Homo sapiens: one gene and its partner. The protein of the gene in region 1 interacts with the protein of each later gene in a pairwise test. Each region holds a gene or a part of one and is shown in the gene's direction. Other genes may lie near its edges.

Region 1 (7,507 bases):
AGTGGTGGGTGGACAGGAGTGGCAGTGAGGGGAGGACAGTGGGTGGGGGCGGGGGTCACACATCTGGATTGGAAGCCTAGTTTTTCTTCTCAGTTGCTATGTGTTGTCAATAGCAAGAAAGCAAAAAAGAAAATGTAAGCCAGGAAGAAAATTGATTTTATTCATGCCCTTTCAATAGGAAGAACGTCCCAGATCTGAACATCAGAGTGTCTCAGATATCTCAGGATGGTTTCCCCTTAGACGTTTTCCTTTTTCGGCCGGGCATGGTGGCTCACGCCTGTAATCCCAGCAATTTGGGAGGCCAAGGAGGGCGGATCACCTGAGGTCGGGAGTTCAAGACCAGCCTGACCAACATGGAGAAACCCCGTCTCTACTAAAAATAGAAAATTAGCTGGGCATGGTAGCACATGTCTGTAATCCCAGCTCCTTGGGAGGCTGAGGCAGGAGAATCGCTTGAACCCAGGAGGTGGAGGTTGTGGTGAGCTAAGATTTTGCCATTGCACTCCAGCTTGAGCAACAAGAGTGAAACTCTGTCTCAAAAAAAAAAAAAAAAAAGATGTTTTCTTTTTTTTTCAGGGACAAGGTCGCCCAGGCTAGAGTGCAGTGGTGCGATCTCCACTCACTGCAACCTCCACCTCCTGGGTTCAAGTGATTTTCATGCCTCAGCCTCCCGAGTAGCTAGGACTACAGGGATATGCCACTACATCCAGCCAATTTTTGTATTTTTAGTAGAGACAGATTTTTACCACGTTGGCCAGGCTGGTGTCGAGCTCCTGAGCTCAAGTGATCCTCCTGCCTTGGAAGGAGGTGCTAAGAATATAGGTGTGAGCTACTGCACCTAACCTCCCCTTAGATTTTTTTTTTCTTTTTTTGAGACAGAGTCTCCCTTTGTTGCCCATGATGGAGTATAGTGGTGGAATCTCGACTCACTGCGACCCCTGTCTCCCAGGTTCAAACGATTCTCCTGCCTTAGCCTCCCAAGTGGCTGGGATTACAGGCCCATGCCACCACACCCTGCTAATTTTTTTTTTTTTGTATTTTTAGTAGAGACGGGGTTTACACCATATTGACCAGGCTGTTCTTAAACTCCTGACCTCAAGTGATCTGCTCACCTCGGCCTCCCAAAGTGCTGGGATTACAGGTGTGAGCCACCAGACCCGGCCCCTTAGACTTTTATAGAAAGGATTTAGACAAGTCACAGGTGGTGGTGGTGGAGGTGGGATTTCTGAACTCATGTGCTGCTTTATAGGAACACAGGTAAAGTTAAACATTGTCAGTCACTGGGTGCTATGGCTCACCCCTGTAATACCAGTACTTTGGGAGGCCGAGGCAGGAGTAAGAGACCAGCCTGGGCAACATAGCAAGACTCTGTCTCTACTAAAAATAAAAATAAAAATAATTAGCCAGGCATGGTGGTGCGAGCCTGTAGTTCTATTTACTCAGGAGGCTGAAGCAGGATTAGTCCAAGCCTGGGAAGTCGAGACTACAGTGAGTTATGATCACACCACTGTACTCCATCCTTTCTAAAAAATGAATAAATAAAATAAATTAATTTTTAAAAATTCAGTGCCTACAGAAGCATAGGAAAAACAAAACAAAACATTGCCAGTGTTTTTGGGCAATTTCATTCTCTTTTGGAGCCCCCTTCACTTCACCCTCAAAATGAGAACGTGGGGCTTCCAGGTGAGGAGTTCTAATGCCCCAATTCCTTTCCAGCCTGTCGTAGGACACTCGGGAGCCCAGAAATGGCTCAGAAGCTCTGGGTCCTGGAGTAGGTAAGGAACTGGAGGGCGTATCAAGGGAGCAGGAAAAAAAAATTTGCAAAAGCAAAGGGGAGTAGCATTATTATTAAAGTCTCCTGAATATGGAAGTACAAATCGCAACCCTTCTAGAGATGCTTAAGTTCCCGGGGCATCTGCAACAAAACCAGAAAGCCCTAGATCCGTAGTGATATCTTTAGTTCCTCAAATTCCCTTGGTCAATAGCAGATCCTACTTCTGCATCAAGGAAATTGGGTGATAGTGACGCGCGAGTGGACTACAAATCCCGTAATGCATGTGGGCGGTATGAGGGCGGTGCCATGTTTAACGTATTTTAGAGACACGTGCTAGGAACTACAACTCCCAGAAAGGCACGTGCGGTACCCGGGTCCCCACTGTGCCAGCTGTTTATTTTTTATTTTTATTTTTATTTTTTACTTTTTTTTTTTTTTTGAGACGGAGTCTTGCTCTGTCTCCCAGGCTGGAGTGCAATGGCGTGATCTCAGTTCACTGCAACCTCCGCCTTCTGGGTTCAAATGATTCTCCTTCCTCAGCCTCCCTAGTAGCTGGAATTACAGGCACCCACCACCATGCCTGGCTAACTTTTTTGTATTTTTTGGTAGAGACTGGGTTTCACCATGTTGGCCAGGGTGGTCTCGAACTCCTGACCTCAAGTGATCCGCCCGCCTCGGCCTCCCAAGGTGCTGGGATTACAGGGATAAGCTGTCGCACCTGGCCTGCTTTTTTTTTTTTTTTTTTAATTTTTAATTTTTGTTGGTACATACTAGGTATACATATATTTACGAGATAATTGAGATGTTTTGATACAGGCAGGCAATGTGAAATAAGCACATCATCGGGAATAGGGTATCCATCCCCTTTCAAGGATTTACCCTTTGATGTATAAACAATCTAGTTACACCCTTTAATTTATTTAAAAATGTACAATTAAATTATTATTGACTATAGTCATTCTGTTGTGCTATCTAATAGTAGGTCTTATTCATCCTTTTCTTTTTGTACCAATTAACCATCCCCCACCTCTCCCCCATGTACACACCCCCACCCCCAATCTTCTTTTTTTTTCTAGTCCAAGGAACACCACCCCTTACTTGCCGACTTCCGAAGGTCACCGGGAGCGGGTTCTCAGCCTCTCCCAAGCCCTGGCTACTGAGGCGTCGCAGTGGCACAGAATGATGACAGGTGACTGGCTGGGGATGTTGGACTTCTGGGTTTTAGGGAGGAGAGAGCTGGAGACCTGGAATCCCAGGTCCTGGAGAGGAGGGGTCTGGGGGCCGGTGAGAATTTTTTATCTTGGTGAGTAAAGAGTTGGGCAGGGTTTGGGAGTTTTAGGTCTCAGGCAAGAGGTGACTGGGGTCCGGGACACTTGGGAGGAGGGGAGGAAGAGGTCAGGGGGCGGGGAGAGGGCCGACAACTGAGTCTCAAAGAGGACTGGACTGGCGTATCCAGACTCCTGGATCTGAGGGAGGAGGGGCTGGGGGCCTGGACTCCTGGGTCTGAGGGAGGAGGGGCTGGGGGCCTGGACTCCTGGGTCTGATGGAGGAGGGGCTGGGAATCCGGAGTCCTGGGTCTGAGGGAGGAGGGGCTGGGAATCCGGGGTCCTAGCGCTGAGGTTTGCCATTCTCATGTCCCACTCATCCTCTCCAGGTGGAAATTTGGACTCCCAGGGAGACCCTCTTCCCGGTGTGCCGCTGCCTCCTTCGGACCCCACGCGCCAGGAGACCCCTCCCCCCAGATCTCCCCCGGTGGCTAATTCGGGTTCCACGGGGTTCTCTCGCCGAGGGAGTGGGCGTGGAGGAGGTCCCACCCCCTGGGGGCCCGCGTGGGATGCCGGGATCGCCCCTCCGGTCCTGCCACAAGACGAGGGGGCATGGCCTCTGCGAGTCACTCTGCTACAATCCAGCTTCTAATCCGCCCAAAAGCGGCAGCCAATCGGAGCGCGAGGACGTGGTCTGGAGGTACCGCCGGAGATCTGGGACCACTCAGGGCATCAGGGGGCGTGGTCTGGTCCCCATTGCGGGCCCGGGAGGGGAATGGTTTCTATGGCCAAAGTTTGGTTTTCTCAACACTGTCTAAATTTGGATTAAAACTTTGAACTTTTAGTCAATAGCTTTCTTTCTGTCTGTCTGGGGTTGTGGCACTGGTGTCTCTGAGGGGCAGAGCTGGAGTCGTGGACTCCTGGGTCCTGAGAGAGGAAGGGACAGGGGGCTTGGACTTATAGGTCTCTGGGAAGAAGGGATAGAGAACCTGATCCCTCGGTCTGAGAGTGGAGGGGGCTGGGCCAGGATTCCCGGGTCTGAGGGAGGAAGGGGTGGGACCCTGACTCCTGGGTCTGAGGGAGGAGGGACTGGGAGGCTGGACTCCCGGGTCTGAGGGAGGAGGGGCTGGGACCCTGACTCCTGGGTCTGAGGGAGGAGGGGCTGGGAGGCTGGACTCCCGGGTCTGAGGGAGGAGGGGCTGGGAGGCTGGACTCCCGAGTCTGAGGGAGGAGGGGCTGGGGGCCTGGACTCCCGAGTCTGAGGGAGGAGGGACTGAGGCTTCTGGATTCCTGGGTCTGTGGGAGGAGGGACTGGGGCTCCTGGATTCCTGGGTCTGTGGGAAGAGAGGAGTGTCTGAGGGAGGAGGGGCTGGGGACAAACTTCCAGGTCTCTAGCCTTCCTGGCAACGCCCCCCGAGGCCGGACTTCCAGGATCCAGCCTCTATTGAGGATTTGATGCGACGGCCTCACGGGGCTTTGGAGGTGAAAGAGGCCCAGAGTAGAGAGAGAGAGAGACCGACGTACACGGGATGGCTACGGGAACGCGCTATGCCGGGAAGGTGGTGGTCGTGACCGGGGGCGGGCGCGGCATCGGAGCTGGGATCGTGCGCGCCTTCGGTGAGCCGGGTCTGACTGCTGGGAGCTGTGGAGTGTGAGAAAGGAAGGATGGGGGCGGGGTGATGGGGGCGGAAAATAGGGACTCCAGTACTGCAGCCAGGATTCTGATATTATAAAAGCCAATTTGCAGGCTAAAGTAAGCGTGTGGCGCTGTAGGCTAGGGCTGAGTCTGGCAGGGTCTCCGAAGGCAGTGGCCCCTTTCTCTGGGTCTGTTGGTGTAGCTACAAAACCAGTGGTTTGAGGAATGGCTCTGTCAGTCGTGGAGTTTGCTCCGGAAGCCACGAACGGGGGTTCAGGAGCCTCAGCAGAAACAAGGCAAGGAGAGTATGTGTCAAGGCGTCTGCCCTCTGTCCTATGGGTGATCATGAGACTGGGGTCACGAGGGGAGAGGGAGATCAGCCCCAATCCAGGTGGCCACAAGAGGGCGGCAGAGGCTTTAACCAAGGCTCGGAGAGTAACCTGTTCCCTTCCTATTCTCAGTGAACAGCGGGGCCCGAGTGGTTATCTGCGACAAGGATGGTGAGTGACGGTCCCTCAGCCCTCACCTTGGCCCTTCCTCCCTCAGACCCAGAGGTCCAGACCCCTAGCACCTCCTCCCTCAGACCCCGGAGTCCAGGCCCCCAGGCCCTACTTCCTCAGACCCAGGAGTCCAGACCTCAGCCCCTCCTCCCTCAGACCTAGGAGTCCAGGCCCCCAGCCCCTCTGCCCTCAGACCCAGGAGTCCAGGTCCCCAGCCCCTCCTCCCTCAGACCCAGAAGTCCAGGCTCCGGCACCTCCTCCCTCAGACCCAGGAATCCAAGTCCCCAACCCCTCCTCCTTCAGACCCAGGGGTCCAGGCTCCCAGCCCCTCTTCCCTCAGACCCAGGAGTCCAGGCTCTGGCACCTCCTCCCTCAGACCCAGGAGTCCAGGCCCCCAGGCCCTACTTTCTCAGACCCAGGAGTCCAGACCTCAGCCCCTCCTCCCTCAGACCCAGGAGTCCAGGCTCCCAGCCCCTCCTCCCTCAGACCCAGGAGTCCAGGCCCCCATCCCCTCCTCCCTCAGACCCAGGAGTCCAGGCCCCCAGCCCCTCCTCCCTCAGACCCAGGAGTCCAGGCTCCCAGCACCTCCTCCCTCAGACCCAGGAGTCCAGGCCCCCAGGCCCTACTTCCTCGGACCCAGGAGTCCAGACCTCAGCCCCTCCTCCCTCAGACCCAGGAGTCCAGGCCCCCAGCCCCTCCTCCCTCAGACCCAGGAGTCCAGGCTCCCAGCACCTCCTCCCTCAGACCCAGGAGTCCAGGCCCCCAGGCCCTACTTCCTCGGACCCAGGAGTCCAGACCTCAGCCCCTCCTCCCTCAGACCCAGGAGTCCAGGCCCCCAGCCCCTCCTCCCTCAGACCCAGGAGTCCAGGCTCCCAGCCCTTCCTCCCTCAGACCCAGGAGTCCAGGCCCCCAGGCCCTACTTCCTCGGACCCAGGAGTCCAGACCTCAGCCCCTCCTCCCTCAGACCCAGGAGTCCAGGCCCCCAGCCCCTCCTCCCTCAGACCCAGGAGTCCAGGCTCCCAGCCCCTCCTCCCTCAGACCCAGGAGTCCAGGCTCCCAGCCCCTCCTCCCTCAGACCCAGGAGTCCAGGCTCCCAGCCCTTCCTCCCTCAGACCCAGGAGTCCAGGCCCCCAGGCCCTACTTCCTCGGACCCAGGAGTCCAGGCTCCCAGCCCTTCCTCCCTCAGACCCAGGAGTCCAGGCCCCCAGGCCCTACTTCCTCGGACCCAGGAGTCCAGGCTCCCAGCCCTTCCTCCCTCAGACCCAGGAGTCCAGGCCCCCAGGCCCTACTTCCTCAGACCCAGGAGTCCAGACCTCAGCCCCTCCTCCCTCAGACCCAGGAGTCCAGGCCCCCAGCACCTCCTCCCTCAGACCCAGGAGTCCAAGTCCCCAACCCCTCCTCCCTGAGACCCAGGGGTCCAGGCTCCCAGCTCTTCTCTCCCTGCAGAGTCTGGGGGCCGGGCCCTGGAGCAGGAGCTCCCTGGAGCTGTCTTTATCCTCTGTGATGTGACTCAGGAAGATGATGTGAAGGTAAGCCGAGTTCCTGTTCCTACCCCCATCTCCGCTAATGACCAGTTCTTTGTTCTCCTCCAGCCATTTGCATATGCCTTTCCCTCTACTTTTCCTTCCTCTCCTGGCTCCGCTGGACTCGTCAAAGGTTTCCACCCAGTGTCACTCCACACACAAGGTCTTCTGTGACTGATGGGCAGGTCACATGTTCCTTCTGTCACACCTCTCCAAGGCTCTTAGCACATTTAACATGTGGATGGAAATGAATAAGTCCCTCAAAGTGGGTCAACTGGAACTGATTTTTCTGTCTCTTTTTTTTGTAAGTGTCACTGAGGCTGGAGTGCAGTGGTGTGATCTCGGCTCACTGCAACCTCAGCCTACCGAGTTCAAGCCATTCTCCTATCTCAGCCTCCCGAGTAGCTGGGATTACAGGTGTGCGCCACCATGCCCGGCTAATTTTTTTTTTTTTTAAGACAGAGTTTCGCTCCTGTTGCCCAGGCTGGAGTGCAATGGTGTGATCTCGGCTCACCGCAACCTCTGCCTCCCAGCTTCAAGTGATTCTCCTCTCTCAGCCTCCCGAGTAGCTGAGATTTCAGGCATGTGCCACCACACCTGGCTAATTTTGTATTTTTAGTAGAGACGGTGTTTCTCCATGTTGGTCAGGCTGGTCTCGAACTCCCAACCTCAGATGATCCGCCCGCCTCAGCCTCCCAAAGTGCTGGGATTACAAGCATGAGCCACCGTGTCTGGCTAATTTTTGTAGTTTTAGTAGAGACAGGGTTTCACCATGTTGGCCAGGCTGGTCTCGAACTCCTGACCTCAGG
Region 2 (7,020 bases), on another chromosome or scaffold:
TGGCCTCCAGTCACCCTTCTGTCTGGGATGTGCTCGAGAGACACTGGGTGACAAGATGGGTGTCTGAGGCCCTGACAGGCAGGAGTCAGATTCCCCTTGTCCCTCTGACATCTCAGATCACACACCAGCTTCTCTGAGCCCTCCTGGTGGGGGCCAGGGCCCACCCACCCCCTTTTCCTCGGCTATATGTCACCCTGATGACACCAGAGAGAAGGGCTTGGCATTTGAGGAGCAGCGCTGAGAGCCGTGGCCTCGGCAGTTCTAACGAGGCCCCAGACAGTGAGTCCTCTCTATTTCGACCAGTCAGAGTCTGGGTGGTCACTGGTAGAAGGAGATCTCGCCGTCCAGGGTAATCGTTGTAATCCGCGCAGCCCAGAGCTTTCTTCACAGCCCATTGCCCTGATGAGGGTGGAAGGCCCATGGCCGGCAGCAGAGTGGGGGCAGGCTGGGGCGGATGGAGGAGGCCTGTTCCTGGGGAAGGCCGAGAGGGGTCCTCTGGCATAGCTCACTGCTGACCCCATTCAAAAGGCTTTTCTGAAACGATGTGGAGAAAGTGCTGGAAAGAGCAGAGACATGATGGGAAGTGGATGCCAGCTTGGGGGCTCAATGCTCCCCTCAGCGTTCTGGGGCCTTTGGAGTTCCCAGCAGCGAGGTTTATAAAATTGAGATCAAATGGGCATGATCTGAAGTTGAAGATCGGCTGATTCCTCTCCGGGGTCAGCCACATGAAAAACCAGGGCCTGCGTTCACAGGACCAACACTCAAAATGTCCCTTCTACGCTGCACAGTAACAGTCCAGGAAAATCCACCTTAATCCTCCAGCTGCAACTCGGGGGCACCCAGATCACCCCAGGTGACCGTCCTGGAGTCTCAGCTGCTCTCTGTTATGGCAACAGATGTCCTTTGAAAATGCCCGATTAACCCTTTGCACCCGAGAGTCTCATTTTAATTCCTGGACATGCGTCACCTGGGTGGTGCATTTGGCAGGCTCCCAGCCCGCTCCTGGTCAGGTCAGCAGACCCCAAAATGGGCAGGGCCTCTGCATCCTCACACTTCCCCTGCCTGGCCAGACCCTCCCTGCAGCCCTCCTCCAAGGGTGGGTTTCAGGCTCCACATGGGTTCCCAGCCCTTCTCTGAGGGGCCCAAGCTCCCAGCCAGCCGGAAGACAGAGGTGATGCTGTCCCTAAACACCCACCTGAAGGCACTTGGCCTGGCCTGGGCTCCTGGTCCCGAGGGTGCTGAACCTGGGGCTGAGGAAAGCCCACAGTCTCCAGGCTGCACTCAGCAGCTTCCCCAAAGGCCATCTGCAAACCCAAGGATGGTGCCAGGCTCTGAAGCTCCTCCACGCCCTCCTGAAGGAGGCAGGCCCTTGGGGTCACCAGACCTGTTCATGGACGAACACAGAATGGGGCAAGACCAGGAAACCCAAGCTGACGGGCACCCTCAAACCCTGCTACCAAGGACTCCTCCCCGCTCAGCCTCTGGGGCGCGAGGACAAGCGACGGTTCCCCAGGTATCCCAGGGCCCCTCGGTAGGCGCCCAGGAGCCCTTGGCCAAGAAGCCAGAGCAGGGTGGCCCCTCCGGGGGGGAACCGGGGCCAGACAGCAGGAGGGCACTCGCCCGACGGCACTTCACTAGCCGGAGGCATTGGGCCTCGGGGGGCGGTCCGGGAGGCAGGCAGCCACAGTGAGCTGGAGTGACGAGAAGCTCTTTCCCATTATGGGTTCATAATGGGGCCAGCAGGTGCCACGCTGGGCTGCTGCGCCACCGCCTCAGGGCCACTGTGGCCCCTGCACACCCCCTTGAGGAGTCCCCTGTGAGTGCCCTGAGTGGTGGGGCAGCCTGGCAGCACCCTGACAGCTGAGAACTCACAGGAGGCCACCGCCCCACAGGCCTTTCGCTCCCCCGTGGCTGTGGCCGGCCTTCAGGGCAGAACCGGTGCCGCAGGCCTCACCTCATCAAAGGCGGTCTTGGCCCTGCTGGTGGTGCCTCCTCCGTGTGCCAGCCCAAGCCTCGCCACAGGCCTGTGGGTGGGGACATTTTACAAATGAGGAAACTGAAGTCCAGAGACACAGCGAGTGCAGAGCTGGGGTCGGGACAGAGCTAGGGCTGGCTGTGGAGCCAGGCGCTTCCCTCCCACCCTGAAGGTTCCCTCCAACATGCTGCTGCGCACCTCTATCCAGGGGCAGGAGGCTGCCTCCCTCCCTCCTGAACCCCCTGCTCCCCCTGCCCTGATACCGGCAGCTGGCTTCCACAGGCAGCAGCTCTGCGAGGGGCTGGCAAGAACAGCCACAGTGAAATGCCTCACCCTTCTCCGGCCCACCCCACCCCAAAATGTCAGTCCATAGGTAAGGAAAGCTCTCTGAACATGTGGGGCACAGAGACCTGCCCCTGCAGGCATCTTGGAAAAATCGCGTTTTATGGAAATAAGACCATGCACTCGGCAACCTGCCACATGGAGCCTGGGTCCCCCGGGCTGAGGTGGGAGCAAGGTGGGAATTAGCTTGCAGCGTCCAGCTGCCCTTCTTTATTGCCTTGAAAGTTTTGTCACCGAAACCCTCGTGCCCACTTAATCCAGTGACAGAATCAGGGTAGTGTTGCGCCTGCTCCTCTGTTGAACCCCAGCATGCTCGGTGATTCGGGGGAGAAGTCCTGCTGGACTCGCCGCGGTCGGGACCAGAGAGAACCCATGCCCCAACAATCTGGAGCAGCCTCCTCCTCTCTAGTCCTTCTGAGCCTTGAGGCCGAAAGCTTATCTTCGTTGTTCCCGTCCCTTGCAGATGGCAGCCCTCCAGAGCCCCTTCTATGGAGATAAGATGAATCTCTTCTCCCTGTGCCAGAAGATCGAGCAGTGTGACTACCCCCCACTCCCCGGGGAGCACTACTCCGAGAAGGTGAGTTTGCAGGAGCCGGAGGCCTCGCCAGCCCCAGGAGGCCACCGAGGCTTATGAGGGCCGCTCCAAAACACCACAGCTGTGGGGCTGAGGTTAGGCTCACTTTACACGGTGCAGAAAGGGAGCTTTCTGGAAAAGTGACTTGGAGAGGGGAAAGTAGGTGATTGCACTGAAGAAGGGGTTTCACCACGCAGCTCCAGTGTGGGACCCCCAGGTAGGAACCAGTGGCACGTGGCCCTTGGCACATCTCCACCTGTTCAGCTCCCAACTTGGTGCTCCAGTGGGAGGCCCTCTGCTGCAGGTCCCCAGGACAGGGTCTGTGCCGTGCCAGACATGGGAACTGATACAGGGGCAGGATGTGGCAGGCCTGGCGTCCCCATACCACCAGTGGTGGCCACTCTGCTCCCATGACAGGAAACTACGGCAGGAGGACCGGTCAGTTTCCTCCTTATATAACAGACTTAACACCCTGGGCTTCTACTGTCAACATTTTACACTGGCTGCGGGAGCCGTGGACACAGCTCCCATGGGTCTGGCATGGGGCTGTACCAGTTACTAGGAATGTGTGAATATCTTATTCCTCGGCTCCGTCACCTTGAAGATGGGACTAATAATCTCCTTGGTGGATAATGGTGAGGAAGAAAGGACAGGTTTCCTGGCACAGCAGGGTCAAAAGTGTAGATACATGTTCACACACTCTCTGCACTGTTCCTAGGTGAGTCACCTAACCTCCCTGAGTCTCAGTTTCCTCACCTATACAATGGGGATAATATTAAATCTTCCACACAGGATCAGCATAAGGATTAAGGTAAGGCACCAGGCTAACACTGCCACCACCATCCAAAGTGGCCAATGGATGGGGCCTGGCTCAGTCAGTGTTCACTAAATATCATGTGACCCTTATTTCTGTTCAAGGTCAACGCTAGTGGGTGAGTCTGGGGCCTCCGTGGGCCCACCCCATAGGACCACAGGCCGTCACCTCACGATAATAACAGCTCATGTTCAGACTTCCTGAGTTGAATCTTCCCCTCACCCATTTACCAATAAGGAACAGACAGACACAGGCAAGTTAAAAAGACCGGTGAGGCAGGATCTGAACCCACATGCGCAGCCACGGAGCCATCGTGCTTCTTGATGGCATGTCTTTGGTGGCCCATCAATTAGCTGGGGTGAGGCTCTGGAAGGAGTGCCCTTGCCCCGGCCAAACTGCACAGGGCAGGTCCTGGGTGCTGCGCTTGTGTCCAGGCCGGAGGCTCCTCGCAGGGCACCTGTGCTGAGCCTGTGCTTGCTGGCGTTGCAGACTCCAGGGCTAGAGGAGCTCGAGTGTCGGGCGCTGCACAGTGCCCTTCCTCTCCTGGCTCCCAAGTTCTGACCTGCACTTTTGGAGGAAGTATTTCTCCTCCCCAGTGGGAGGAAAAACAAGTTGCATCTCTTTACAAAGTTAATAGTTGCCATTTGCTTTTTTCCTTTCTCATCTTCTGAATTCGGACTTGTGTATGATTCAGAAGCTTGAAGCTGTGCAACTGGAGCTGGTGACAACTCTGTGCTTTGGCTGTCAGTCTAGAAATGGGAGTCGCCCTCTCTACTTCAGTGATGAGGCTGAAATGAACATTGAAGCCCCTGTCCCAAGTCAGCCCTTTCCTGGCCACGAGCCCCCACTCCCCGGAGCACTGGCTCTCGCCGGGCCCCATGCTTAGGAGTGAGAGGTGGTGCTCAGGAGCCCCCAGCACACCCTATTTTAAAGTTATATCGCTGCTTAGAAATGAAAATAAGACACTTTTATTATTTTTCTCTTGAATTCTGAAAACTTCAAACATGCACTTATTGACAACTGTGCGTTTACTTCATAAATTAGTTCGGGTCACAGACACTTCACCTGAATCTGGTTTTCTTGGGTATTTTAACCTGTCAGAGGCCAACCACAGGTACCTTCCCCCGAATATTGTAAGGTTCAGAAAACAGCTGTCTTGTCCACAGGCGACTTCAGACTCCGGGAGTGGCCTAGCAGGCTGCAGGCCCTGTGTCACCTGGGCTTCTCGGTTGTAAGGCATGCACGCAGGTGCGAGGGGATACCCTAAGGCTCTGTGGCCCAGGGAGAAAATGCCCCATCAGCTGAGAGGAGCCCTAGTCTACAGGAAGCCCAGGCCCCATCCCTCAGCCTAACGGGCCTGCGCAGCAGTAGCCCCCGGGCCTCCAGAACGTCCCGTGGGCCCTTCCCAGTCCCTGAGTGAGTGTGGCCACTGAGACCACCAGAGCCCCCTCTGGTTCAGGACCACCCAGCTTCCTGCTGCTGCTGCTGCTTCGGCTGCTGTGGCCTGCGGGGCTGACCACCCCTCCAGCAGCAGGTATTTAAATGGAAACCAATGGCTGTGAGCCCGTGATGCAGGGTAAGATGTAGGCATTTTAAGGTCATTATTTTAATTACCATTAAAATAATTGGCACTCCGGCTATCAGAAGAATGGAGGCGATCAGAGGCGCAAGGCGCCCCTCCCCCACCTCGGGGCGGGAGCAGCCTTCAGTGTCTGTATAATTAAAAGCTCCGTCTTTCATGAGCACAATAAAGGGGCCGGGGGTGGGCAGACTGCAGCCCTGCTGCATGTTAATGCGTTTATTATGATCAATAAGCCCTTGCCTTGAGTTTTGTCCTCTGGTTTGGGCATCTGCGTGACTGACAGCAGACACACACACACACACACACACACACACACAATTTGCCCAATGGTGTGGACAGCTACAAGTTCAAAATAATTTGGAGGTTAACCATTCTTAGGGTCTCAAAGCACAGCCTTTGGGACTAGACAGGCCTGGGAGGGGTACTGGCTAGCCCTTGGGAGCCATGCGGCTGCGCACCCCTTACTTGCCCCAGCTAAACACCGTTCTTCAGCTCTAACGGGGACAACGGGACCATCTAGTTGCTCTGAGGATGAAGTGCCTTCATGCAGACAGACTGTGGAGTGCGGAGCCTCAGTAAGACTGCTTTCTTGAGAATAACACACCATTCTCTCCCCTGCAGTTACGAGAACTGGTCAGCATGTGCATCTGCCCTGACCCCCACCAGAGACCTGACATCGGATACGTGCACCAGGTGGCCAAGCAGATGCACATCTGGATGTCCAGCACCTGAGCGTGGATGCACCGTGCCTTATCAAAGCCAGCACCACTTTGCCTTACTTGAGTCGTCTTCTCTTCGAGTGGCCACCTGGTAGCCTAGAACAGCTAAGACCACAGGGTTCAGCAGGTTCCCCAAAAGGCTGCCCAGCCTTACAGCAGATGCTGAAGGCAGAGCAGCTGAGGGAGGGGCGCTGGCCACATGTCACTGATGGTCAGATTCCAAAGTCCTTTCTTTATACTGTTGTGGACAATCTCAGCTGGGTCAATAAGGGCAGGTGGTTCAGCGAGCCACGGCAGCCCCCTGTATCTGGATTGTAATGTGAATCTTTAGGGTAATTCCTCCAGTGACCTGTCAAGGCTTATGCTAACAGGAGACTTGCAGGAGACCGTGTGATTTGTGTAGTGAGCCTTTGAAAATGGTTAGTACCGGGTTCAGTTTAGTTCTTAGTATCTTTTCAATCAAGCTGTGTGCTTAATTTACTCTGTTGTAAAGGGATAAAGTGGAAATCATTTTTTTCCGTGGAGTGGTGATTCTGCTAACATTTTTATCTACGTTTTATAACTTGGTGAGTGACGATGAGAGCCCTGCACCTGGCCAGAGTGTCACAGGCAAAAGGCATCGGGAAGCAGGAGCATCTTCTTGGCAGCCAGGCTGGGCCATCTTCTCCTGGACACCTGCTGTGTACCAGGAACTTCGTCACCTCCTTGAATGCTGGCGGTTCATTTCATGATCAGTGTTAAGCATTTTCCTCCATGGGAAGGAAGCATGGGATATAGAAAAGCGAAGGGCTGTCCTTTACAAATTCTGGTTCTGCAACTTCCTAGCGTGACTTTGGGCTTGGGCAAGTTTCTTAGCCGTTCTGAGCCTTCATTTCCTCATCTGTACAATGAGATTAATAGTACCTATCATCTACCTTCAGGATTGCTGACAGACAGAATTTGAAATAAAATATGCAAGTTAGCTAATACAAAAAGTAGATGATCCAAAAATGGTAGCCACTCACCCTTCACAAA

Evidence for each region.
Region 2: the proteins of HSD17B14 (region 1) and NEK6 interact in binary tests that used the Homo sapiens proteins (3 or more experiments, as listed by UniProt).

The regions. Positions count from the first base shown.
Region 1 is NC_000019.10:48,833,473-48,840,979, reverse strand, and holds the start of HSD17B14 (L-fucose dehydrogenase), read left to right. Parts: upstream 1-4,488; 5' UTR 4,489-4,568; coding exon 4,569-4,656; intron 4,657-5,136; coding exon 5,137-5,175; intron 5,176-6,621; coding exon 6,622-6,704; intron 6,705-7,507. Other genes in the region: PLEKHA4 (pleckstrin homology domain-containing family A member 4), read left to right, coding at 1,717-1,775, 2,851-2,963, 3,429-3,691. UniProt on the Homo sapiens protein: Catalyzes the NAD(+)-dependent oxidation of L-fucose, yielding L-fucono-1,5-lactone, which rapidly converts spontaneously to L-fucone-1,4-lactone. Can also act on D-arabinose and L-galactose, with lower catalytic efficiency. Does not use NADPH.
Region 2 is NC_000009.12:124,344,929-124,351,948, forward strand, and holds part of NEK6 (serine/threonine-protein kinase Nek6), read left to right. Parts: exon of another isoform or gene 1-2,774; intron 2,775-2,780; coding exon 2,781-2,894; intron 2,895-5,908; coding exon 5,909-6,019; 3' UTR 6,020-7,020. UniProt on the Homo sapiens protein: Protein kinase which plays an important role in mitotic cell cycle progression. Required for chromosome segregation at metaphase-anaphase transition, robust mitotic spindle formation and cytokinesis.